Linked DNA regions of Homo sapiens. The protein of the gene in region 2 interacts with the protein of the main gene of each other region in a biochemical or structural test. Each region holds a gene or a part of one and is shown on either strand. Other genes may lie near its edges.

Region 1 (7,701 bases), on a different chromosome or scaffold from region 2:
ACTTTGAGTGCATGGTTTTCTTTTTTTTTTTTTTTTTATTTTGAGATGGAGTTTTTGCTCTTGTTGCCCAGGCTAGAGTGCAGGCCCAGACGTGATCTTGGCTCACTGCAACCTCCGCCTCCTGAGTTCAAGCAGTTCTCCTGCCTCAGCCTCCTAATTAGCTGGGATTACAGATGTGCGCCACCACACCCGGCTAATTTTTGTATTTTTAGTAGAGATGGGGTTTCACCATGTTGGTCAGGCTGGTCTCGAACTCCTGACCTCAGGTGATCCCACCCCTGGCCTCAGCCTCCCAAAGTGCTGGGATTACAGGTGTGAGCCACCGCGCCTAGCGAGTGCATGGTTTTCTAAATACTTGTTGACTTAAATGTTCTCAGTTGCCTGTGCATATGTAAGTTTTAACAAAATATTGATTCTAGAGTCTAACATTTTCTTTTCAAGATTGTAAGAATGGCAGAATTTCATGAGCCACTTCCTTGTTTATGATAGATTATGCATTCTCCCCTCTTGCTGAGTTTTTATGGCTTTGAGGTTTATGATTATGATTTTTTTAGGGCTGTGGCAGAAATTCTCAGGAGCAGCATGCCTTGAAGCACTATCTGACGCCAAGATCTGAACCTCACTGTCTGGTTCTTAGTTTGGACAACTGGAGTGTATGGTGAGTTTCAGTTCCTCTGCCTCTTGGGTGGAAATTATTTGAAATATTAGAGAATGGAAATGTTTAAATATGTTTAAGAAGAAAGCAATTTAAAATTTTTGTAGTATGTTTTAAAATACCATCACTTTCACAAAGCTAAAGAATGCAGTATTATGAGAAGCTTTTACTTGGACGTTTGCACAAGCACAAACATTGTAACATAGAAGACTTAAGAATCTTTACCCCTTTGTTTTTCTTGCTTGTGATATTATAAGGCATATAGTGGAGATAGGGACGCTAAGAACAAATTTCAGATAAAATTGTAATAAAATTTTGGCTATGAATTTGCATGAAAATAAATGTCAGTCTGGTATGTTATAGATGCTGCATTGTAACATCATTAAAACAGATTTTTACGTCTTAAAAATCATTTTCACAGTAGTCTTCACTGAATGACATCTTTTTTTTTTTTTTGAGACGGAATCTTTCTGTCGCCCAGGCTGGAGTGCAGTGGTGTGATCTCGGCTCACCACAACCTCCGCCTCCCAGGTTCAAGCAATTCTCCTGCCTCAGCCTCCCGAGTAGCTGAGATTACAGGGATGCACCACCACGCCCGGCTAATTTTTGTATTTTTAGTAGAGACGGGGTTTCACCATGTTGGTCAGGCTGGTCTCAAACTCCTGACCTCGTGATCCCCTTGTGATCCGCATGCCTCAGCCTCCCAAAGTGCTGGGATTACAGGCATGAGCCACCGTGCCTGGCTTGAATGGCATCTTTCAATTGTAAAAGTTGTTACTTTTGTCTGGCTAACACGTTGAAACCCCATCTCTACTAAAAATACAAAAAAAAAGTAGCTGGGCATGGTGGTGGGTGCCTGTAGTCCCAGCTACTCGGGAGGCTGAGGTAGGAGAATGGCATGAACCAGGGAGCTGGAGGTTGCAGTGAGCCGAGATCCTGCCACTGCACGCAGCCTGGGCAACAGAGCGAGACTCCGTCTCAAAAAAAACCAAAAAACAAAACAAACAAAAAAAAGTTGTTATTTTTGTTAGTGTTATTCTGTATTTTAAAATATATGTAAACAATCTTTTGACTTCAATGTTATAACCAGTAAAGTAAAACGTTTGGAGTATTTCATCATACTACTTATATGCAGCCATAATTCTGGCTAATTTTATTAATAATAAACCAGAGTTAATATGCATAGTCTTCTTCAGGAAAACAGAATTTTTACGTTCGGTTTCTTTAATAGAATAAGTTGGCAGTTACACACTTTGATTCCAGGAATTATTATTTGTCTCCCCCTTTTTAGTTGTCATTTTGTCATTTTTCATCTCTGATTTTTGGGTCACAGGTGTTACGTATGTGATAATGAGGTCCAGTATTGTAGTTCAAACCAGTTGGGTCAAGTGGTTGATTATGTCAGAAAACAAGCCAGCATTACAACTCCAAAGCCAGGTAAAATAATTTGTTTCTTTAATATACACCAAATGTCGATTTGTGTATCTGCTGATACTTAGATTTGTTATACTACCTAGCATTACATACAGCTGAGTAACATTAGTTATGGTTGATTGCAAACTATGAAACTATTTTTGGTTTAACTATAAGGTATTAGAAGGGATATGAGAAATGATCTAGTCAGATGTGATGAAGGCCATAGACTAAGGTAATGGCCATTAATGCTAAGACTAAGGTAATTCCCATAACCCTAGCCAGGCTTACTATAGACCTGCCTTACACTGTTCTTACTGTCGTACATTTTGTAATAGCAAGATTTCAGTCTGTCTGCTGGGATAACATAAAGCATTTGTGATTCCTTCTAATGGTCAGATATTTCTTAGGTTCTTTCCATGCATAATTAAATTAATTGGCTGACATACAGCATTTGCTTTAAGCATGTTTTTTAAGTTTTTATTGTCACAAGTATCTTTGTCAGAGCCAGAATTATTTGTTTTTTACTTTAGGATTGATTTTTGACCCACAGAATTCATTAAAAAATTTATTTCATGTCCATGTTCTTGATTGTTTTATATTCTTAATTTCACAAGGTAAGATGTGTTCATTTGTAAAGAATTTTCGTGCAGTAAAAAAGGGAGATTTATACCAAAGCACATACTGTTTGGTTTCATTTATCAAACTAATGCTTACTTTAGGTCTGAGTATTTTTTGTTTACTGGGTTTTGTGTTTTTTTTCTGGATGGCAATTTACCTGTATCTATTTAAAATCAAATGGGTGGGTGGGTTGGAAAGAATGACTTCAGGTAAACTCACAAACTCTAGTACTGTTTCCCAAGTATACTTCTGCATTCGATATGACTGTATTACACATTTTGCTAAATCTTTTCTTTTTTTAAAGCAGAGAAAGATAATGGAAATATTGAACTTGAAAATAAAAAATTAGAAAAAGAGAGTAAGAATGAACAAGAGAGAGAAAAGAAGGAAAACATGGCTAAAGAGAATCCTCCCATGAATTCTCCTTGCCAAATAACCGTGAAAGGACTCAGTAATTTGGGAAACACATGTTTCTTCAATGCAGTTATGCAGGTACATTGTCATTTTTTTCCCTTTAAAAAAGCTGTCCTTTTCCTCATAGAATCTGCTACTTACATTATTGAGTTTTTTCCACCTGAGTAATTTATTTCTATGTATCCAAAGAAAACTTTTTTTTTTTTTTTTTTTTTTTTTGAGACAGGGTCTCACTCTGTCACTCGGCTGGAGTGCAGTGGCACGATCGTGGCTCACTGCAGCCTCTACCTCTTGGGCTCAAGCAGTCCTCCTACCTTAGCCTCCAGAGTAGCTGGGACTACAGGCATGCGCCACCACTCCCAGCTAGTTTTTGTATCTTTTGTAGAGACAGGGTTTCGCCATGTTGCCTAGGCTAGTCTTGAACTCCTGGGCTTAAGCCGTCCACCCCCTTTGGCCACCCAAAGTGTTTGGATTACAGGCGTGAGCCACCATGCCTGGCCAAAGAAAACTTAAGGAAAGTTTTATTGCATGACAGTAAGAGAGTTTGGTGAGCACTCGGGTGCAGTGGGTTTGAAAGAAATATTGCTGCTTCTTTCATGGAGCTTGCACTTGGGTGGAGGAAACACAGGATAACCTCATATAGAAGCAAATACGTACCTACAGGTAGTGGTAAGTGGTTGTGAGAGAGTCATGGTGGAGGATTGGGGATAGCTACTTCTGATTGGGTGGTGGGAGAATGCCCCACTGAGGTGATGAATAAGCTCAGAACTGAAGTAGTTATGACCCAAATAGAGTAGGGAGAGAAGCATCTGTAACTTTTCATTTTCCAAGTATAGAGTTTTCAGTGTTGGTCATGATTTTCTGTTTTGATAGAATAGACACTTAAGAAGTGTCAGAGTTGATTTGCCTTTAAATAATTTTTCTCTTTTTTTTTCACCCTACATTCTAGAACTTGTCACAAACACCAGTGCTTAGAGAACTACTAAAAGAAGTGAAAATGTCTGGAACAATTGTAAAAATTGAACCACCTGATTTGGCATTAACAGTATGTTCTTTAAACTTTTCTAGTCTGTAACTTTCCTCTCTGAATGTGTGTTTTCTAAATTATTTTAAATAACTGACACTCATTTCCACTGTTTTTGTTTGTTTTGTTTTACTTTAGGCTACTAACTTAAACAGTTTCAGGCTAATAGAAGTTATAAGGAGGCATTACATCTGTTTGCTGTGTGTGTGCTCTGTTTTTCTATGCTCGAGTGTTAAGCTTCCTTCTTGGGAATGTGTATATGTTTGAGAAGCCTTAGGCTTACATTATTATTTTTAACATCTTTAAGGTGACTTAAGAGCTGTGTAACCAAATAAATATTACCTTATCCATTTTTATTATTTACATTTTGCTTTGGCTCTTTCAATTCTTAGGTAGTAAGTGTTCCAGATAATCTAAAACTAAAATAGTAGAGCTGAATTCTGCATAAGACAGTCTGTGACCAAACAGTTTCTATCTCTTTTGATGTACATTTTAAACTTTTAAATGGGGCAGTTCTGTCAGGAACATTGGTAGTATATGTTAACTAATTAGATTTTAGTAAAGTCAGTGATTCCAGAATTTGACTGAAGAAAGTAATTTCTTTTCCCATATTCAGGAACCATTAGAAATAAACCTTGAGCCTCCAGGCCCTCTTACTTTAGCCATGAGCCAGTTTCTTAATGAGATGCAAGAGACCAAAAAGGGGGTTGTGACACCGAAAGAACTCTTTTCTCAGGTCTGTAAAAAGTGAGTATCCACTTCGATTGTGCTTTCAGTGCCTCAGTGAGATGCTGAGAAATAATATTAATATTAAATAGTAAAATATAAAAATATTAATAGCATTACATTTAGTCAACCCTCTATATACAAAAGGCATAGTTTTTTTTCATTTGGATTTTAAAATATATTTTATGTGATAGTTAAATCTCCCAAGGGTGTTAATGGACTAAACGGAAATTTGTAGAAACCAGAACTCTCTGAGATTTGGGATATGATCCTAAGATTTTCTAAAAATAGCTTCAGAGCTTAGTAGACTGAAGATTGCTTTTCTGTCTTTTTGTTTTTCTCTAGAGCAGTGCGGTTTAAAGGCTATCAGCAGCAAGACAGCCAGGAGCTGCTTCGCTACTTATTGGATGGGATGAGAGCAGAAGAACACCAAGTTAGCATGTTATGACCATTGTATTTTATGATCTTATCTTCATAAGCTTTCTGTCTCATTTGATATCTTACGAGTTAAAACAATGAAAGCTAGTTATTAAGGCCATCATACTTTAAAATTTTTTCTTACACCAGCTTTTTCAACTAGTATGTTTTCACCATTAGAATGAATCCAGAGAATTAGCAGTAATTCTCTTTCTCATGATGGCTTAAGTTTAGTTGATGTTTACAGCATTAATGTTCTTTAAAGATTCTGTTGTACTAACCTATACGAAGAGAGCTGCCAAATATTGGAAATTGTTTCTCCCAAACCCAGGTGCAGCACACCCTTACTTTTAATTCTGAGTCTGATTTAATACTGTTTTTTGAACCTAGGAAGTATTTTCATTTTGTAAGAGTCAGGGAACATTGGTTGCATTTTAAAATTTTTGTTACTTGCCAGGATATAAAAAAATGTATTTGGGGTATGAATTAATGAGTACTAATAATAGTGATAATAACTAATATTTATTTCGCACTTATTTTTATGCCAATCACTGTTTTCAGTGTTTTGTATTAATTCCCTTACTTCGTTCTCACAAAGTTTCTGTGAGGTGGATACTGTGATTTTTTCCTATTCCATAGATTGAGAATCTAGGCTGTAGAGAAGTTCAGTACCTAGTTTAAGGTCCCCCAGAAATAATGGAGCTGGGCTTTAAGCACTGGAGTCAGACCCTGTGGCTGTCATGTAATCATTGTGCTTGTAGGACAAGCTATTTCAGTTTCTTCTCAAAGGTGGTGGGCATGTTCTGAAAACCTTTGGCTTGAAGAGGTTTAAGATCTTGAAATGATAAGATAATACCTTTATTCAATGGTTAGTGATTGCTTTGTGACATAATTCCTTTTTAGCTCCTTGAATTAAGTTTGAAAATGTGATTTTGGAATTATTTAGTAAATATGGGGAGCTGTATCCTGATCACTTTCTTGACTTGATTACATATTTCTAAGGAAAATAAAATTTAAAATTTAATAGTATATATATATCCATTTTATTACTTTTAGAGAGTGAGTAAAGGAATACTTAAAGCATTTGGTAATTCTACTGAAAAGTTGGATGAAGAACTAAAAAATAAAGTTAAAGGTAATGTCTGACTTTTTGAACTAAAACACTATAGTTGAATTCCTCTGTACCTTAGGACAAGATTGCTGGCACATATATTTCCAAGTCCACAATTATTAATGTATAATTTCTCTTTATCAACGTTGATTAGTAAAAATTATTCAGTGCTCCAGAAGTGAACAGTTTTACCCCATGGTGTATTCTTTTTATGTATTAAAGATAGAACTATGATGAATTACAGTTTTACTTTTCAAAAGCTTAAAATTATAATTAGCAGTAATACATGAATTATATTTGTTACTGTGAGTTGTCAGTAGTTGGTTTATTAATCATGGAGCCAACTTAGTTCTTATTATGTGGCGTGTAAAGATTTAGGGCAGATCTGCCCAGTAGAACTTCCTATGTTGATGGAACTCCTCTATACCTTTGCTGTTCCATATAGAAGCAACTAGGCACGTGTGGCGCCTGAAATGTGACTGGTGAAACTGAGGAACTACATTTTTATTTTTATTTAATTGTAATTAAATTTAAATAGCCGTAAGTGACTAAGGGCACTGTATTATAAAGCACAGATTTGAATCAACTCATAGCAACTCTTTGCCTCCTTGGTGCCCTTTAGAGCCTGGCCAGTAATGGAGAGAATTACCCCTGCTGGCATTTTCTGTCAGAAAAGTGTGGTTCTGCATAAATTATCATTTGAATAATGCTTATAGGTTTCACGTATTTGGAAAATTGGCTGATCAAGTAGTAAAATTATGGCTTTTAGTTATATTAAACTTATCAAGATTATTTCTGGGAGCATAGGAAAATAAAAGGAAGATTTTGTTTGAAATATTTTCCTGAGGTTTTTCTTTTGTTTTTAAAATATCAAAGGAGTTCAGTCTTAGAGTTCACAAAACAAGTTACATGCATTTTCTCTCCCAGTTTGCTACTCTGGTATCTTTTATCAGTCTTGAATGTTAGAATGTTAGAGCTAGAACTAAGGAACTAGGCTGTCATTCAGCCTACTCTGAGCTGTTCATTTTATACTAATGGAGAGAGAGAGAAAGACATAGAAGTCTCACTGACTTGCACAGTTTACTTCCCACTGACTAGATCTTGGATAAGGACTTTTTTGTCTTATTCATAAAAGGCGATTGTGTTCAATTATGTTATGCTCAGAGGTGGAATATATAATACTGACTTCTATTGCTTAAAAAAGGTGATTATGAATGGAGGAAGAAGTCTGTGGGACAGGAAATTTAAAATAAAATTTTAGAGTTAGATAGGTAAGTAGTTTTAGCTTTTCTTGTTTAATTAATTATATAACGGTAATTG
Region 2 (7,701 bases):
ATCTAGTTATCAAGAAAGGTCTTAAGAACTTGGCCATTCTTATTTCCACTAGACAAAACTTTTCTGATATTCTAATAAGAGTGTGCCTTGTGGCTTTGAGAGGTTGGTTATTGAAGAAGCTTACGAAGCTACTCTTAATAACTAGGCCAAAGGATCCAGTTTGAATAGCTGGATAAAATTTCTCTTATGAATCAAGGTTACCTTTTATTTTTTATTTTTATTTATTTATTTATTTATTTATTTATTTATTTTTTGAGACAGAGTCTCGCTCTATTGCCCAAGCTGGAGTGCAGTGGCGCGATCTCGGGTGACTACAACCTCTGCTTCCCAGGTTCAAGCGATTCTCGTGCCTTAGCCTCCCGAGTAGCTGAGATTACAGGCACGCACCACCACACCTGGCTAATTTTTGTATTTTTACTAGAGACAGGGTTTCACCATGTTGCTCAGGCTGGTCTCAAACTCCTGGCCTCAAACCATCCGCCCGCCTCAGCCCCCCAAAGTTCTGGGGTTACAGGCATGAGCCACTGCGCCTGGCCAGCGTTACTTTTTGTTGTGTTTTGTCAGCTGCTAGTGAGCAGCTTCATTTTGTTTGTTAGTATACAATTCATTTGGAAATGTAAATTTTCAAAAATATCAGAATAGCAATATGAGGTACTGCTAGAATGTATTATACTAATAACTAAACTAAGAGGAAAGATTTTTTGCTGATGAGGCAAAAGTTGGTTTCTAGTAACTGTCCTAGAGGCAGCTTAATACTGGTAGAAAACATGGGCCTTGGAGACACTGGGCATGAATCTTAGCCTCACTACTTACAGTCTGTGTGATCTTTTGCAAGTTACCTAAATTTTCGGTGCCCATTTCATTATCTATAAAATTAGTAAAGCTAACTACCTCCTAGGATGGTTGTGAAGATTAAATTAGTTAATATAGACGTAACTCCTAATACAGAGCATGACACTTAGTAAATCAGAAATGTTAGTAGCAATTGTTATTTAAATAAAACAATAAAAAACCCATGAGTAATTAACTATAAAAATCAACTGATAAAAAAATTAGCTGACAGAATAAGAACAGTGGTTGTCAGGGAAGGGAGGAAGAATGGGGAGTTACTGTTTAATGGGTATAGAGTTTCAGTGGTATTTGCACCACCATCCATCACCAGAACTTTTTCATCATCACATACTGAATGTACTTAATGCCACTGAATTGTACCTAAAAATGGTTAAAGTGGTAAATTTTGCATTATGTATAATTTGCACAGTTTGAAAGAATAATGGACAAAATAATGAGCTGACAGTAGATACTAACTGGAAAGAGGTGATAGTGTTTTAAGGATTGAAACAATATAATAAATTACAAAGGAAAAACAAAAATGATCCAGTTTGTTCATGCATTGATTCAAAACACATTTATTTAGCTATTACTAGTGTCAGGCCCTGTTTGAGTTGCAATCCAGAAGACGAGTCACAGATGACAAGTGAAGGGGCTTGGTGGAGCCTTCTAGAAGAGGCCAGTGTCAGAAGAGAACTGAAACGAGGCCACAGTGTGGCTAGAGGTCAGGAAGGGGAAGGAGTGAGGCCCAAGGTTTGCTGGGCCCTTAAGTTTTACCCTAAGAGGGTGGGAAGCTTTGGAAGAGGTTGAAGCAGGGAAGTGAAATGATCCAATTTGCATTTTGGAAACTCTAACCACAGTGAGTAGGGCATACTAAGGGGGATGCGGGAAGTCCTGTGGAGGAAACCAGAGTTCACATTAGTGTTGAGTCAGAAATAAGAATTACTTTATTCTAAAAACTGTCAGCAGCCGTGGAGAAAGGACATTGAACTGCTTTCTTCCCTTGGCAATGTTCACAGTTTTAAATATGAAAGGAAGAAGACAGAGAAGGCACAAAAGGAGGAGTGGGGAAACCTTGATGAAATTACAACACATACATGTTTAGAAGCCCAATACTTTGTTACAGGAAATATATATAGACAATGTATCTCAATCCTAGAGGTGAAAAAATTAGAATACTTATCTTTTTATTTAAATAGGAGATTACATGAGAGATTCTACCATTTGGAACCTAAAGCAGGCCTTAGTTAAATTGAGGTTTATTCAGACCTTGTTTAACTTGGTTAATCAGCTAATCAGGAGGTCTTTTTGTTTCACCTTCTTTATCAGCTCAGAATAAGTCCTCTCAGCACTCCATCTGTTCAAAGCATTTATAGGTACACAGAGAGATCCTCCAATATAAGGGAAGGAATGATGGGGCTGGTTGTATAGTACATCAACTGAAAGTTTGCTGGGGAAGACGCTGAGGTTCTGAAAAATTAAGTAACTTGTTGAACATCACTCAGGACAAAGTTGGGGGCTGTATTAATGAGTTCTTACACTGCTATAAAGAAAAGAGGTTTAATTGGCTAATGGTTCCACAGGCTGTACAGTAGGCATGATGCTGGCAATCTGGTTGGCTTCTGGGGAGGCCTCAGGAAACTTTCAATCATGGCAGAAGGTGAAAGGGAGCAAATGTCACATGGCTGGAGTGGGAGGGAGAGAGAGAGTTGGGGGCAGATGCCACATACTTTTAAATGACCAGATCTCTTGAGAACTCTCAGAGAAGCACTGAGGAGGAAATCTACCCCCATGATTCAGTCACCTCTCACCAGGCCCCGCCTCCAACATTGGGAATTACAATTTGACATGAAATTTGACAGATCCAAACCATATCAGGGACATTGCTGAAATTTGCATTTGTCTCATTGACTTTGGAGCTCTTAGCACCTTAGCACATTGCTTCCTTTATAATATAACGCTAAATGAGAAAGAAGAATACAGATATAGCCGGATGGTAGTGGCATGCCTGTAATCCCAGCTACTCGGGAGGCTGAGGAGAAGAATCGCTTGATCCTGGGAGGCAGAGGGTGCAGTGAGCCGAGATCATGCCACTGCAGTCCAGTCTGGGAGGCAGAGTGAGATGCTGTCTCAAAAAAAAAAAAAAAGAAAAGAATGCAGCTATAATTATGTGTGTGTATATGTACATATGTAAGTAAAGAGGTATAAGGAAAAAGAATAGAAAAGAAAAATGAAAAATATAATTTTATATTTTATTTTTATATATATTTTTAAGCTTATAAGTTTGCAGATTGCATATTAAGTGGTTTTTTCCTCCTTAAATTTTCTTTTTAAGTCAAAACTAGTTAAAGGGGGAGACCTTGGAAGTTTGTCTACATTATTTTTTAAGGTTTTTTTTCTTTGATTAAGTAGAGCAAGTCCTTTTAAAAATATTGTAACATTTCTAATTAAGATTTAAGATAATTTCAAAATGGGGAGCAGTTGACTGTACCAAATGTAAGCTAGTTTCTTAGGTATATTGATTAACTTTTATTTATATATTTTACTTATTTAGGTTTTAGCATCTTCTTCAGCAAATGAATGCATTTCGGTTAAAGGAAGAATTTATTCCATATTAAAGCAGATAGGAAGTGGAGGTTCAAGCAAGGTAAGTATCTTAAAATATTTACGAAATAAATAAAAATATTTTAAACTTTCTGTTTTTTTGTCTTTTTACCTGTGAGGGCTGCTTTTCCTTTACTTCTAGGGGCGATGCTGCCCTTGAGCCAAAAAGCCATCTTAACACCTGCCTTTCTCTTCCCGCTGCCCCTCACATGTGACATATCCTCTTTAGATCTCTTATTCCCAGTCTTCTGCCTTTCCTTTCAATGTCCTGTGCTTCTAAACTTCTTCTTTAATAACAAAAACATTGACATGGGGTAGCGAATGACCACTATGTATTATCACAAAAGAATCAGAAATTTCTGAGTCAGAATGTGATGTAAATTGCTAATATGTTTAGAATCATTCAGCAAGGATTTTTACTAATGGATTTTGTTTTCTTTTGAGTTATTCATTTCAGAAACAGAATTCAGTAACAAATGAATTTCTGGAATTAGATTATTTTCTAAATTTACCTGAGTTCTAAATTTATATCGTTTTACATCTCTGGATAGAAGGCATCTTAAGCATTATCTAAATTTACCATCATTAATTGTCATTCAATTAAATCTACTTCCATTAGATTTTTGCCTTCATCACTCACCAGAATAACTGTAATCAAGAACACTAATGACCTCCATTTTTTTGCCAAATCTAATTCTTAGCTTAGATTTTGGATTACTTAGCATTTGGGACAACTGATTTTTTTTTTCGCAGTGAAGCTTTTTTCCGCACTTGGTTTGTGTTTTTCTCTTCTCAAACTGTCCATACCTATTGTCTTCTTCGTGTTACTGATCTCAGTGAAGCACTGCTCCGGGCTTAGTCCTCAGCATTCTTTCATCTTTTTCTTAAACTCATTCATTGGTGTTCTCTTTCAATCTTGTGGTTTCAAATAACATGTGTATGCTGACAATTCCCAAACTTGTATTTCCAGCTCATACCTCTCCTTTGAATTCCAGACTTGTATATTCAACATCGCTTCTTAGTGTCTACCAGGCATTTAAAACAATATGTCCAAACACAACTCTTGCTCCATAGCTTTTCCCATTTGAGTAAATGGCAGCTTCATTCTTCCAGTTGATTGAACAAAAAATTGGTGCCTCTTACTCTCATACACATATCTAGCCAATCAGCAGATCTTGTTAGTTCTACTTCAAAGTATCTCTAGAATCTATTTCTCACATCTCCAGCATTATTATTTTGGTCAAGGCAACTTTTGTATTTTCACCTAAATTACTTTAATAGCCTCCTAAAGGAATTCATTTACTCAGTCCTTGCCCTCCTGGTCTATTTTTTTAAATTGTATATTGACAAATTAGAGTTGTATATTTTTATGGGGTACAAAGTGGTATTAGCTTTTTAAATACAATATGAAATGATTAAGCTAATTAACATCTATTACCTCAATTATTTGTGTGTAATGAGAACATTAGCAATTGACTCTCTGCAATATTGAAATGTATAATATCCAATTATTATTTTCAGCATGCTATGCTAATCATCTAAAAAAAATCAAACTTGTTTCTCCTATTTGAGGCTTTGTATCCCTTCACCAACATCTCCCCATTTCTCTCAACCTCCAGCCTTTGGTAACCACCATTGTCAAAGGTAGTATGAGCTCTGCTCTATGAGTTTAATTTTTAGATTTCGCATATAAGTGAGAACATGAGGTATTTGTCTTTCTGTATTTAGCCTATTTCAGTTCCTCCTGGCTTATTTTAACATGACATCCTATTTTCCTCTAGATATCCTCATGTGTCTTCTCAGTTAGGCCTTCCTTGCCCACACTGTAAAACTTCAACTCCCACCTTTCAATCACCAGTGTTCTCCATTCCCCACCGGTTTGTTTTTCTCTGTATCTTACCTTCTAACATGTTCTGTAATTTACTTATTTGGTTTGTTGTTTGTGTCCCTCTGCACTTGAATGTGAGCTCCATGAAGATAGGGATGTTTTTCTGATTTGCTCAGTGATATTAGCCCCTGCATCCAGAACAGTACCTAGAACAGATAGGGATTGAATTTATTAGTTGAATTGAGTAAACTGTCTGTCCTCAGCTCTTTTGCTATTGTAAGTTGTTAAGGATGACACATTAAACAGACATTGTTGGACTCATTTTAAGTTTTACTGTAATTTCCTAATCCCACTAACAATAATTAGAATTGCATAAGGCTGTCTTATTAACTTACCAAAAATAAGGTATGTGCATTACCATGTGTATCAACTCTTCAATAAATATTGGTTTCATTATACATTTCCTTTTATCAATCTATTTGAATTACCTAATTTAATTGCTTTCGTAGAAATTACTTGGTTAATATTTATTATTTATTTGTTTTTTGGCTATATTTTAGTAGTATCAAGGTATTGAGACTTAATAGAGGTATTTATTTACTTGTATGTTTTCAGAGAATGTAGAGTAGTCTTAATGGCATTTTAACATTTTTTTCCTTGGAGTATAATGAAGGTGTAAGCTTACTTAAGTCAAGGGCCAAGTGATAAAGCAATGGCTGGCCCATATTTTCTGAATTCAATTAAATTATCATTTAAGTTAATTATGATAGAGTTGAAAAAAATCAAATGCCTCAAAGAAAGTAACATGCTTTATGAAACTAATACCATTTATGCTTTGCCTGTTTCAGAGTTTAGGCAGTGACCAACTTTTAAGGAGGCTATTGAGAGTATCTAGAACAGTCATGGGGTAATGAGAATGGTCAAGACACTGGTAACTTCCCATAAAACTAACAAATCACAACTCTGACACTATCTCTATGAAACTGAAATAAGGCTTACCTAAACCGGATTGCAAGAGTTTTGCCAGAACAGAGACAGTGGGGGCAATAATAAACTCATTCATGCAAAAATTGCTAAATCTAGGCACAATAGAGAAAACAACATCTGTGAATTGAATTGACTCTGTATCATAGCCTTTAGTCATCCTTAACTTTTTTATTTTTCCTTGAGACCGTGTCTCACTATTTTGCCGAGGCTGGACTCAAACTGCTGGGCTCAAGCAATTGTCCCACCTCAGCCTTCTGAGTAGTTGGGATTAAAGGAGCAAACTACTGCACCAGGCTTGTCCTTAACATTTTGGAAAGTCTTTTTCTTTATGCTGTTTCCCTGTTTAGGGCATCCAACAGATTGTTATATATATCTGAAGTTTAAACTTTTCTTACATGTTGATATAGAAACTTTAGATTTATACCTTTAAATTATTGAATGCCCATCATCATAGGTCATTGGGAATGGACTGTTACTCTGCTATCAGAATTATTTTTCTTCCTTCTACACTCAAAATAGGCCCAGAAACTTTTAATGTTCATGTCAGTATTTCCTTTAGAATTTTCTCAACCTAAAATCCTAATAAATTTAGAATCATTGTGTGATAGTGTATAAATAGTATATTCTAAACTTCTCTTTGTTCTACTCTGTAGGTATTTCAGGTGTTAAATGAAAAGAAACAGATATATGCTATAAAATATGTGAACTTAGAAGAAGCAGATAACCAAACTCTTGATAGTTACCGGAACGAAATAGCTTATTTGAATAAACTACAACAACACAGTGATAAGATCATCCGACTTTATGATTAGTAAGAATTCTTTTTAAATTTAAAAAGAAAACTTTTTGCCATAATTCTTCAGGTAAATATTTAGTAAACTTTAATATAACCTAGCCATTTATTGTTTTGTTGCTTTTATTTGTTTAATTGCAGTGAAATCACGGACCAGTACATCTACATGGTAATGGAGTGTGGAAATATTGATCTTAATAGTTGGCTTAAAAAGAAAAAATCCATTGATCCATGGGAACGCAAGAGTTACTGGAAAAATATGTTAGAGGCAGTTCACACAATCCATCAACATGGTATTTAACAGTTTTTTTATATTTGTAAGGTTAAAATCTTTGTTAATAGTGTCATCTTAGAGAAATATACCTATAATTTTAGGGCATTGGTTATTGGTGTCTTTAACGAGATCAACTAAATAATTAGAAGTTTATTTAAAGATAAAGGAACAAAACCATTTCTTAAAACACCGTTAACCCAAAGGATATAGGACATCAACTCAAGTTCCGACATCTGTAATACAAAATGTATTTTTCTCAGTATTAACGTAGTCTGTCATCCTTATCTCCAAATACTTGGATTATAGCAGGTCTAAGACTTTGGGGTTCAGGCATCCTGAAAATATGAGATGTTTACTTTATTCATTCTCCTAATCATTTTGTAT
Region 3 (8,632 bases), on a different chromosome or scaffold from region 2:
TTGCTAATTGGGCCATAATAATGGGCATGCAACCCAATCCAGTGAGTCAGAGTCTTTCTCTGTAATTTTTCAAATTGGATCTAGGGAAAAGAATCCCCTTTCCTCACTGGTCACAGAATTAAAAAGTTGCATAACTGGAATGCTTTAGATATGTCCCTAATGTATCCCTAACCAATGCCATGTATCAAGGAAAATTCTAAATGAAAGATCCAATTAAAAAGAGTACTCTATCAAGGCTTAATTTAGAATTTTGATAGAAAAATGTAAGTCAGTATTTTTGCAACCTACAACCAGAAAGAGATTTTAAATACAATTTTAAAAGGATTAATCAATAAGGAAAAATATCTATGACTGTTATTACATTTTTTGGGGGGTGGGGGATGAAGTCTTGCTCTGTCGCCCAAGCTGTAGTGCAGCAGCACGATCTCAGCTCAATGCAACCTCCACCACCCGGGTTCAAGCAAGTCTCATGCCTCTCAGCCTCCCGAGTAGCTGGGATTACAGGTGCGTGTCACCACACCTGGCTAATTTTTGTATTTTTTGTAGAGACAGGGTTTTGTCATGTTGGCCAGGCTGGTCTCAAACTCCTGACCTCAAGTGATCCACCCACCTCGGCCTCCCAAAGTGCTGGGATTACAGGCGTGAGCCACCGCGCCCAGCCTGTTATTGTAAAAAATTTAAGGATTTCTGTTTAGGAAATGACACTATGGACAAAGTTAATAAGCAGCTAACAGAGTAAGAGAAGATATTTACAAAGTCAAAATCTGACAAGAGATTAATATCTAGAATTTCAAAGAATACCTTCACATCAACAAGAAAAAGGTAATGACTACATACAGAAATGGGTGAATGATATGAACAGCCAATTAAAAAACCAGAAAACCAAAAACTGAGCATGCACAGGAAGTGCTTAAAATCATTAGTAATCAGAAATATAATTTTTTTAAAAAAGATAACATTTCACACTCATTACACTGCCGAAAGTTGTGAATCAGCATGATGTCAAGAATTGGCAGGGGTGTGGACATACAGGAACCCTCATGCAAGGGCGGTGGAGAGCAAGCTGTCATTACTCAGGCAAATAAAATAGACGTCTGTCACCCAACGGTTCCACTGCTGTGTGTACGGAACGCTCTCACACAGTTTATAAAGGAACATGTAGGAATATGTTCACTGTAGTATTATTTATGATGTTCACAGTGGGGAAGGTAGATGGGCGAAATATGGTGGATGTACACCATGGGAAATGCTGTGGCAGGCAGGCACGATGGATTAGAAATCACATTGTGTTAGTTTCCTAAAGCCATTGTAACAAATTACCACAACTGGGTGGCTTAAAACATCAGAAATTTAGCTTCTCTCAGTTCTTGAGGCTCTAAGTCCCAGATTAAAGAACTTGGCACGGCCATGTTATGAAGTAAATAATACTACAGTGGATATGTTCATGTATGTCCCTTCGTAAATTGTATGAGGACTTTTTGTACACAGGAGTGGAATCACTGGGTCGTAGACATACACTTTATTTGACTAAGTAATGACAGCTTGCTCTCACAGCAGGGGAGGATACTTCCTTGCCTCTTCCAGTTTCCGGTGGCCTCATGTTCTTTGGCTTCTGGCATAATGACTGCAATCTCTGCCTCCATCTTCAGAGGGCTGCCTTCCTTCTGTCTTTGTCTCTGTTTTCTTATTTTTATTTTTATTTTTTTTGAGACTGAGTCTCACTCTGTCGCTCAGGCTGGAGTGCAATGGCACAATCTTGGCTCACTGCAACCTCCACTTCCGGGTTCAAACAATTCTCTTGCCTCAGCCTCCCGAGTAGCTGAGATTAAAGGTATGTGCCACCATCCCCAGCTAATGTTTGTATTTTTAGTAAAGACGGGGTTTCAACATGCTGGCCAGGGTGGTCTCAAACTCCTGACCTCAAGTGATCCGCCCCCCTCCCAAAGTGCTGGGATTACAGGTGTGAGCCACCTGGCCCGGGCGTCTCCCTTCCCTCCCTCCCCCTCCCCTCCCCCTCTCCCCCCTCCCCTCCCTTCCCCTTCCCCTTTTCCCTTCCCCCTTCCCCTCCCCTCCCCTCCCCTTCCCCTCCCTTCCCTTCTCTTCCGTTCCCTTTCTTTTGAGACAGAGTTTTGTTCTTGTCGCCCAGGCTCAAGTGCAATGACTATATCTCGGCTCACTGCAAACTCCACCTTCCAGGTTCAAGCAATTCTCCTGCCTCAGCCTCCCAAGTAGCTGGGATTACAGGCACCCACCACCATGCCCAGCTAATTTTTGTATTTTTAGTAGAGACGGGGTTTTACCGTGTTGGCCAGGCTGATCTCGAACTGGCCAGGCTGGTCAAGGCGATCCTCTCGTCTTGACCTCCCAAAGTGTTGGGAGGTGTGAGGCACCGAACCCAGCCTGTTTTCTTATAACAGCAATTATATTGAAGAGGGTCTATCCTGAATTGAGTATGACCTCATCCTACTTGATTACATCTACAAAGACCCCTCTCTAATTAAGGTCACATTCACAAGTACTGGAGGTTATAATTTCTACCTGTCTTTTTGAGGAACACAATTCAACCCACAACAAAGAATAGCAGGAACTATTTTTAAAATGTAGTTTTTAGAGCTGAGCATGGTGGTGAGCACCTGTAGTCCCAGCTACTCAGGAGGCTGAGGCAGGAGGATTGCTTGAGCCCTGGAGTTTAAGACAAGCCTGAGAAACATAGTAAGAACCCCTCTCTAAAAAAAATTTTTTTAATTAGCCAGGCATAGTGTCATGCACCTGCAGTTCCAGCACTTTGGGAGGCCAAGGTGGGAGAATTGCTTGAGGCTAGGAGTTCAAGACCAGCCTGAGCAACATAGCAAGACCCTGCCTCCACCAAAAAAATGTTTTTTTACTTAGCTGGGCATGTAGCCTCTGTAATCCTAGCTACTTAGGAGACTGAAGCAGGAGGATCACTTGAGCCCAGGCATTTGAGGTTATAGCGAGCTATGACCGTGCCACTGCACCATAGCCTGGGCAGCAGAGTGAGGTGCTGTCTCTTAGAAAAAAAAGTTTTTCATAAAAAAAAAGAAAACAATATAATATATACAATAACATGCAGGTAGGTAACTTTAAAATACATTTACCCCAAAAATTATGTTTCAGAATTTATAAAATTCAGCTAAAGGAGTTCTTAGAGGAAAATTTATAGTTTAATAGTTTAAATGCCTTTACTTAAAACAAAAAAAGGTTAAAATCATAAGAAACAAAAAGAAAGAAAAGTAAAGTAAACCTAAAGTGAGCAGAAGAAAGGAAGTGATGAAGATAACAATGAAAATCAGTGAAACAAACAAATGGAAAAACAATTGTAGTAATTAATAAAACCATGAGCTGGTTCTTTGAAAAGACAGGTAAAATTAATAAACATCTAGCTGGACTAGTGAAAAAAGGAGAGGACACAAATTACCAAAATCAGAAATGAAAGGACACAACAAAGAAAACAACAGAGTGAGAGAAAATATTTGCAAACCATATATCCAATAAGGGGTTACTATCCTATTCTAAATATGTGAAGAAAGCAAACAACTCATAGCAAAATCAGATCACACGACTAAAAAGGGGGCAAAGGGCACCAGGTGCACTGGTTTACACCTGTAATCCCAGTGCTTTGGAAGGCTGAGACAGGAGAATTGCTTGAGGCCAGGAGTTGTGAAAAGCCTGGACAACATAGAAAGACCTTGTCTCTACAAAAAAATTTTAGATTAGCCAGGTGTGGTGACATATGCTTGTAGTCCCAGCTACCTGGGAAGCTGAGGTGGGAGGATCACTTGAGCCCAGGAGTTAGAGGTTGCAGTGAGCCATGATTGCAGCACTGCAGTACAGTCTGGGCAACAGCTTGATAGCTTGAGACCCTGACTCTTTAAAAAAAAAATCATTTATCAAAAGATGACATACAAATGATCAACAGGTTCATAAAAATGCTCAATATTGGCTGGGCACAGTGGCTCACACCTGTAATCCCAGCACTTTGGGAGGCTGAGGTGAGCAGATCACCTGAGGTTGGGAGTTCGAGACCAGCCTGACCAACATGGAGAAACCCTGTCTCTACTAAAAATTCCCCAGAGGCTGGGGAATAAGGGGCTGGGGGAGATAATGGGGAGATGAAGATGTTGGTCTCAGGGTACAAAGTTAACAGTTAAACAGGAGGAATACAATTTTGAGATTTATTGCACAGCATAGTGACTATAGTTAATAATAATTTATTGTATATTTCAAAATTTCTAAGAGAGTAAGTTGAAAATATCTCGCCACAAAAAGAATGATAAGTGGGCTAGGTGCAGTGGCTCATACCTGTAATCCTAGCACTTTGGGAGGCTGAGGCAAGAGGATCACTTGAGGCGAGGAGTTCAAGACCAGCCTGGGCAACATAGCAAGACCCTGTCGCTACAAAAACTTTTTTTTTTTTTTTTGAGACGGAGCCTCGCTCTGTCGCCCAGGCTGGAGTGCAGTGGGGCGATCTCGGCTCACTGCAGGCTCCGTCCCCCGGGGTTCACGCCATTCTCCTACCTCAGCCTCCCGAGTAGCTGGGACTACAGGCGCCCGCCACCACGCCCGGCTAATTTTTTGTATTTTTAGTAGAGACAGGGTTTCGCCATGTTGCCCAGGCTGGTCTCGAACTCCTGACCTCGTGATCAGCCCGCCTCGGCGTCCCAAAGTGGTGGGATTACAGGCCTGAGCCACCACGCCCGGCCCCAGGGGACATTCTAGAGGGGACTTCGCCCCCCAAGCCGCACTTCTCCATTTCCCTGCGGTCGTCGCTAACCGAAGGCGCCATCCGGTGACGACTGGATGTGCGCGGCGGTGGTGAGAGGCCGCGAGAACCACCAGGTCCACCGCTGCCTCGGCCCGGGCGGAATCTGGGAAGGTCTCTGACAACCATTCATCCTCAGATTTTCCCAATTGTGCATGGGTGGGCGGGCCCCGCATCCTAATGGGCACTGGGCATGTGAAGTGTGAACCACCCGGGCCTAACTAGCCGCTGAAGGCCTGACGAAACCGCCAGGCCCACCAGGGGGCAGCAGAGATCCGACGGCCGCGGACCGAGGGAAGCTGGCGGGAAGTAGGAGGCAGAGGGCGCGCAGGGAAGCGGCAGGGCGAGCGGCTCAGAACGTAAAAGCCAGCACCGCGCCTCCAGGTTGCTTTACGGCTGCCGCAGAAGGCTTTGCGGCTCTTTTCCCCTCCGACTTGATTTACGGTTCCTTCTCTGGTCTGTGTTTTTTTTTTTCCCCCTCCGGCGCTGGGCGTGGGTTCGGACCTTCTTCCCAGAGACGCTCGCGCACCCTTCCCATTCTCCTCTGCGCGGCCTCCATCTAAGATCTCTTCCCCTTGTCCATAGCCTAGATCGAGCTCCCTGTGTGCACCGCGCGCTGCCCGAGGCGCGTAAGTGGGGGAGGAGAGCGGCTTCCCCCGGGGTGGTTCTAGCCGTGGGTGTGGAGCGTGGGAAGGCTCAGCTTCCGGGTCGAGAACCTGGGGCTGCGGTGGACCTGATCCTGAGGTCTCAGCGTAGAGATGCTGAGTCCAGAGGCCTGTTCTAGTTCACCAGTGCAGTGAGGGGCTCAGTATCCGGGCCTCCCGAGAGGTGGGTAGGAAGGCGGGGTACAGGAAACTTGGCACCAACGCGCCGGGACCCCACCGCGGTGCGGACAGCCAGGTGTCCGTGGTGGCGCTTCCTTGGAGATGCTGCCTGCAGACAGGCGTGGGGAATCTGAAGTTTGTGTTAATAGCTAAACGAAGTTGAGTTGCAGGGAGCGGGGGACGCTGGGAAGAAATGATTGATTTAAAAGGAATTTGACGCCGGGCATGGTGGCGGCATGCCCCCATGTTCCCTGGAGGTCAAGCCTGCAGTGAGCCGAGATCGCACCCGTACCACGACACTCCGTCCCGGGCGACAGAGCGAGACCCTGTCACGGGGGAAAAAATAAAAATAAAAATTTGACGCTCACTTTAGCTGAGTATTGAGCCTTGTTATAACATTGAGATAGAGGTCTGGCGCGGCGTCTCACACCTGTAATCCCAGAACTTTGGAAGGCCGATGCGGGAGGATCGCTTGAGGCCAGGAGTTCTACGCCAGCCTGGCTAACATAGCGAAACCCCGTCTCTACTAAAAATACAAAACTAGGCAGGCCTGGTGGCGGGCGCCTGTAATCCCCGCTACTCGGGAGGCGGAGGCATGAGAATCGCTTGAACCCAGTAGGCAGGTGTGCCGGTAAGCCGACATCGCACCACTGCACTCCAGCCTGGGGGACAGAGCGAGAATCCATCCAAAAAAAAAAAAGTTATAATTCACGTACAATTAAATTCACTCCCTTTTTTAAAAAAAAGTGGAGACATAGTCTCGCTCTGTTGCCCAGGCTGGAGTACAGTGGCGCCGTCTCGGCTCACTGCAACGTCCGCCTCCTGGGTTCAAGCGATTCTTTGCTTCAGCCTCTCAAGTAGCTGGAATTACAGGCGCATACCACCACACCCAGCTACTTTGTATTTTTCACCATGTTGGTTAGGCTGGTCTCGAACTCCTCGCCCTTCCAAAGTTCAGGGATTACAGGTGTGAGCCACCACACCCAGTCTAAATTCACCCTTTTAAAGTGTGCAATTCAGTGGTTTTAATATATTCACAAGGTTGTGCAATCACCACTATTATCTAATTCCAGAACATTTTTATCATCCCTAAAAGAAACCTTAAAACCATTAGCAGACACCCATTATTTCCTCCTACTCCCAGCAGCACTAATCTATGAATTTACCCATTCTCAGTACTGTATTATACAATATTTGTTCTTTTGTGTTTGGTTTATTTCACTTCATGATTCAAAGTCCATCTATGTTGTATGTAGCATGTATCAACTTCATTTTTTAAATAACTGAATTATTTATTGTGTGGATATACCACATTTTGTTTCTCCATTTTTGATGGATACTGGTGATTTTCTAGGCTTTCTAGGTCTAGTCCTCCACAGAACTCGCAGTCTGAGGCACAGACATTTAAAACTTAAGTTTTTGGAAACTAGCATTTAACTCTTGGGTTGGGTCAGGTAATTCAGTGGCCTCAGGTCTGGTATCGTTTAGGGCAGTTTTTTTTTTGTTTTTTTTTTTTTTTTGAGATGAAGTTTCACTCTTGTTGCCCAGGGTGGAGTGCAATGGCGTATCTGGGCTCACTGCAACCTCACCTCCTGGGTTCAAGCGCTTCTCCTATCTCAGCCTCCTCGGTAACTGGGCTTACAGGCGCATGCCACTATGCCCGGCTAATTTTTGGTATTTTTAGTAGAGACAGGGTTTCACCATGTTGGCCATGCTGGTCTCGAACTCCTGACCTCAGGTGATCCACCCATCTCGGCCTCCCAAAGTGCTGGGATTACAGGTGTGAGCCACCGCGCCTGGGTGGGAGTTTTGTTTTTTTGTTTGTCTGTTGTTTTTTGGGGGGACAGAGTTTCTCTCAGCCTCCTCGGTAACTGGGCTTACAGGCGCATGCCACTATGCCAGGCTAATTTTTGGTATTTTTAGTAGAGACAGGGTTTCACCGTGTTGGCAATGCTGGTCTCAAACTCCTGACCTCAGGTGATCCACCCGCCTCGGCCTCCCAAAGTGCTGGGATTACAGGTGTGAGCCACCACACCTGGGCGGGAGTTTTGTTTTTTTGTTTGTCTGTTGTTTTTTTGGGGGGACAGAGTTTCGCTCTTGTTGCCCAGGCTGGACTGCAGTGGCGAGATCTTGACTCACTGCCACTTCTGCCTCCTGGATTCAAGCGATTCTCCTGCCTCAGCCTCCCGAGTAGCTGGGATTACAGGTGTGCACCACCACACCCGGCTAATTTTGTATTTTTAGTAGAGAAGGGGTTTCTCCATGTTGGTTACGCTGGTCTCGAACTCCCTACCTCAGGTGATCCTCCCGCCTTGGCCTCCCAAAGTGTTGGGATTACAGGCGTGAGCCACTGCGCCCCTCTGGGAGTGTTTTTTAAAGTGTTCTATTCTCAGTTCACCACTTACCAGGCCGTTAATTATCGTGGTATCAAGCAGAGAAATGTTTGTGTGCTGGTCTTCTCAGGGAGGCAGAAACCGTCAGAGATTGCTGTTGTGTAATGTACACCAAAACGTGTTATCTTGTAGTATAAACGGTGTAGTTGGAGATGAGTGTATGAAAAATGTAACTGAGCTAGCTGTGGGAGAGACTAGTTGTGAAAAATTTTGAGTCACCCACTGTATGCTTTCCCAGCTATGTTCAAATAAGGTGACACTCTGCCTTCCTGTTTCAGCTCTAAAACTGTTCATAAGTGTTATTTTGGCTGTATACGTAGTGCCATGTTTTTTTGTATTTTTGTGCTTTTGGTGATTTTGCTGTTTATAGGGGCCTCCAAGAATAGAAGTGCTGTCTAGCATTTCCAAGTTGAAGGCTGTGATATATCTTATAGAGAAAAGATAAGCTTTTAGATTAGCTTTGTTCAGGCATCACTTTTGTTGTTGGCTGTGAGTTCATGTTACTGCATCAACAATATATATTAAATAAGATATCTTTAAACAGAAGCACACATAAAACAAGGTTATGTATTGGCCTGTTGAGTAACCCTGTATTTCCCCTGGGAGCAGTGGCTCAGTATTTGCTAGTTCAGTGT

What was found.
Region 1: of the proteins of TTK (region 2) and USP16, one has a biochemical effect on the other in vitro, tested with the Homo sapiens proteins (one study listed by BioGRID).
Region 3: of the proteins of TTK (region 2) and RAD52, one has a biochemical effect on the other in vitro, tested with the Homo sapiens proteins (one study listed by BioGRID).

Annotation. Positions count from the first base shown.
Region 1 is NC_000021.9:29,034,283-29,041,983, forward strand, and holds part of USP16 (ubiquitin carboxyl-terminal hydrolase 16), read left to right. Parts: intron 1-554; coding exon 555-658; intron 659-1,988; coding exon 1,989-2,092; intron 2,093-2,993; coding exon 2,994-3,181; intron 3,182-4,052; coding exon 4,053-4,148; intron 4,149-4,743; coding exon 4,744-4,874; intron 4,875-5,198; coding exon 5,199-5,286; intron 5,287-6,326; coding exon 6,327-6,405; intron 6,406-7,701. UniProt on the Homo sapiens protein: Specifically deubiquitinates 'Lys-120' of histone H2A (H2AK119Ub), a specific tag for epigenetic transcriptional repression, thereby acting as a coactivator.
Region 2 is NC_000006.12:80,028,082-80,035,782, forward strand, and holds part of TTK (dual specificity protein kinase TTK), read left to right. Parts: intron 1-3,385; coding exon 3,386-3,478; intron 3,479-6,903; coding exon 6,904-7,061; intron 7,062-7,184; coding exon 7,185-7,336; intron 7,337-7,701.
Region 3 is NC_000012.12:946,379-955,010, reverse strand, and holds the start of RAD52 (DNA repair protein RAD52 homolog), read left to right. Parts: upstream 1-5,316; 5' UTR 5,317-5,409; exon of another isoform or gene 5,410-5,608; intron 5,609-8,632. UniProt on the Homo sapiens protein: Involved in double-stranded break repair. Plays a central role in genetic recombination and DNA repair by promoting the annealing of complementary single-stranded DNA and by stimulation of the RAD51 recombinase.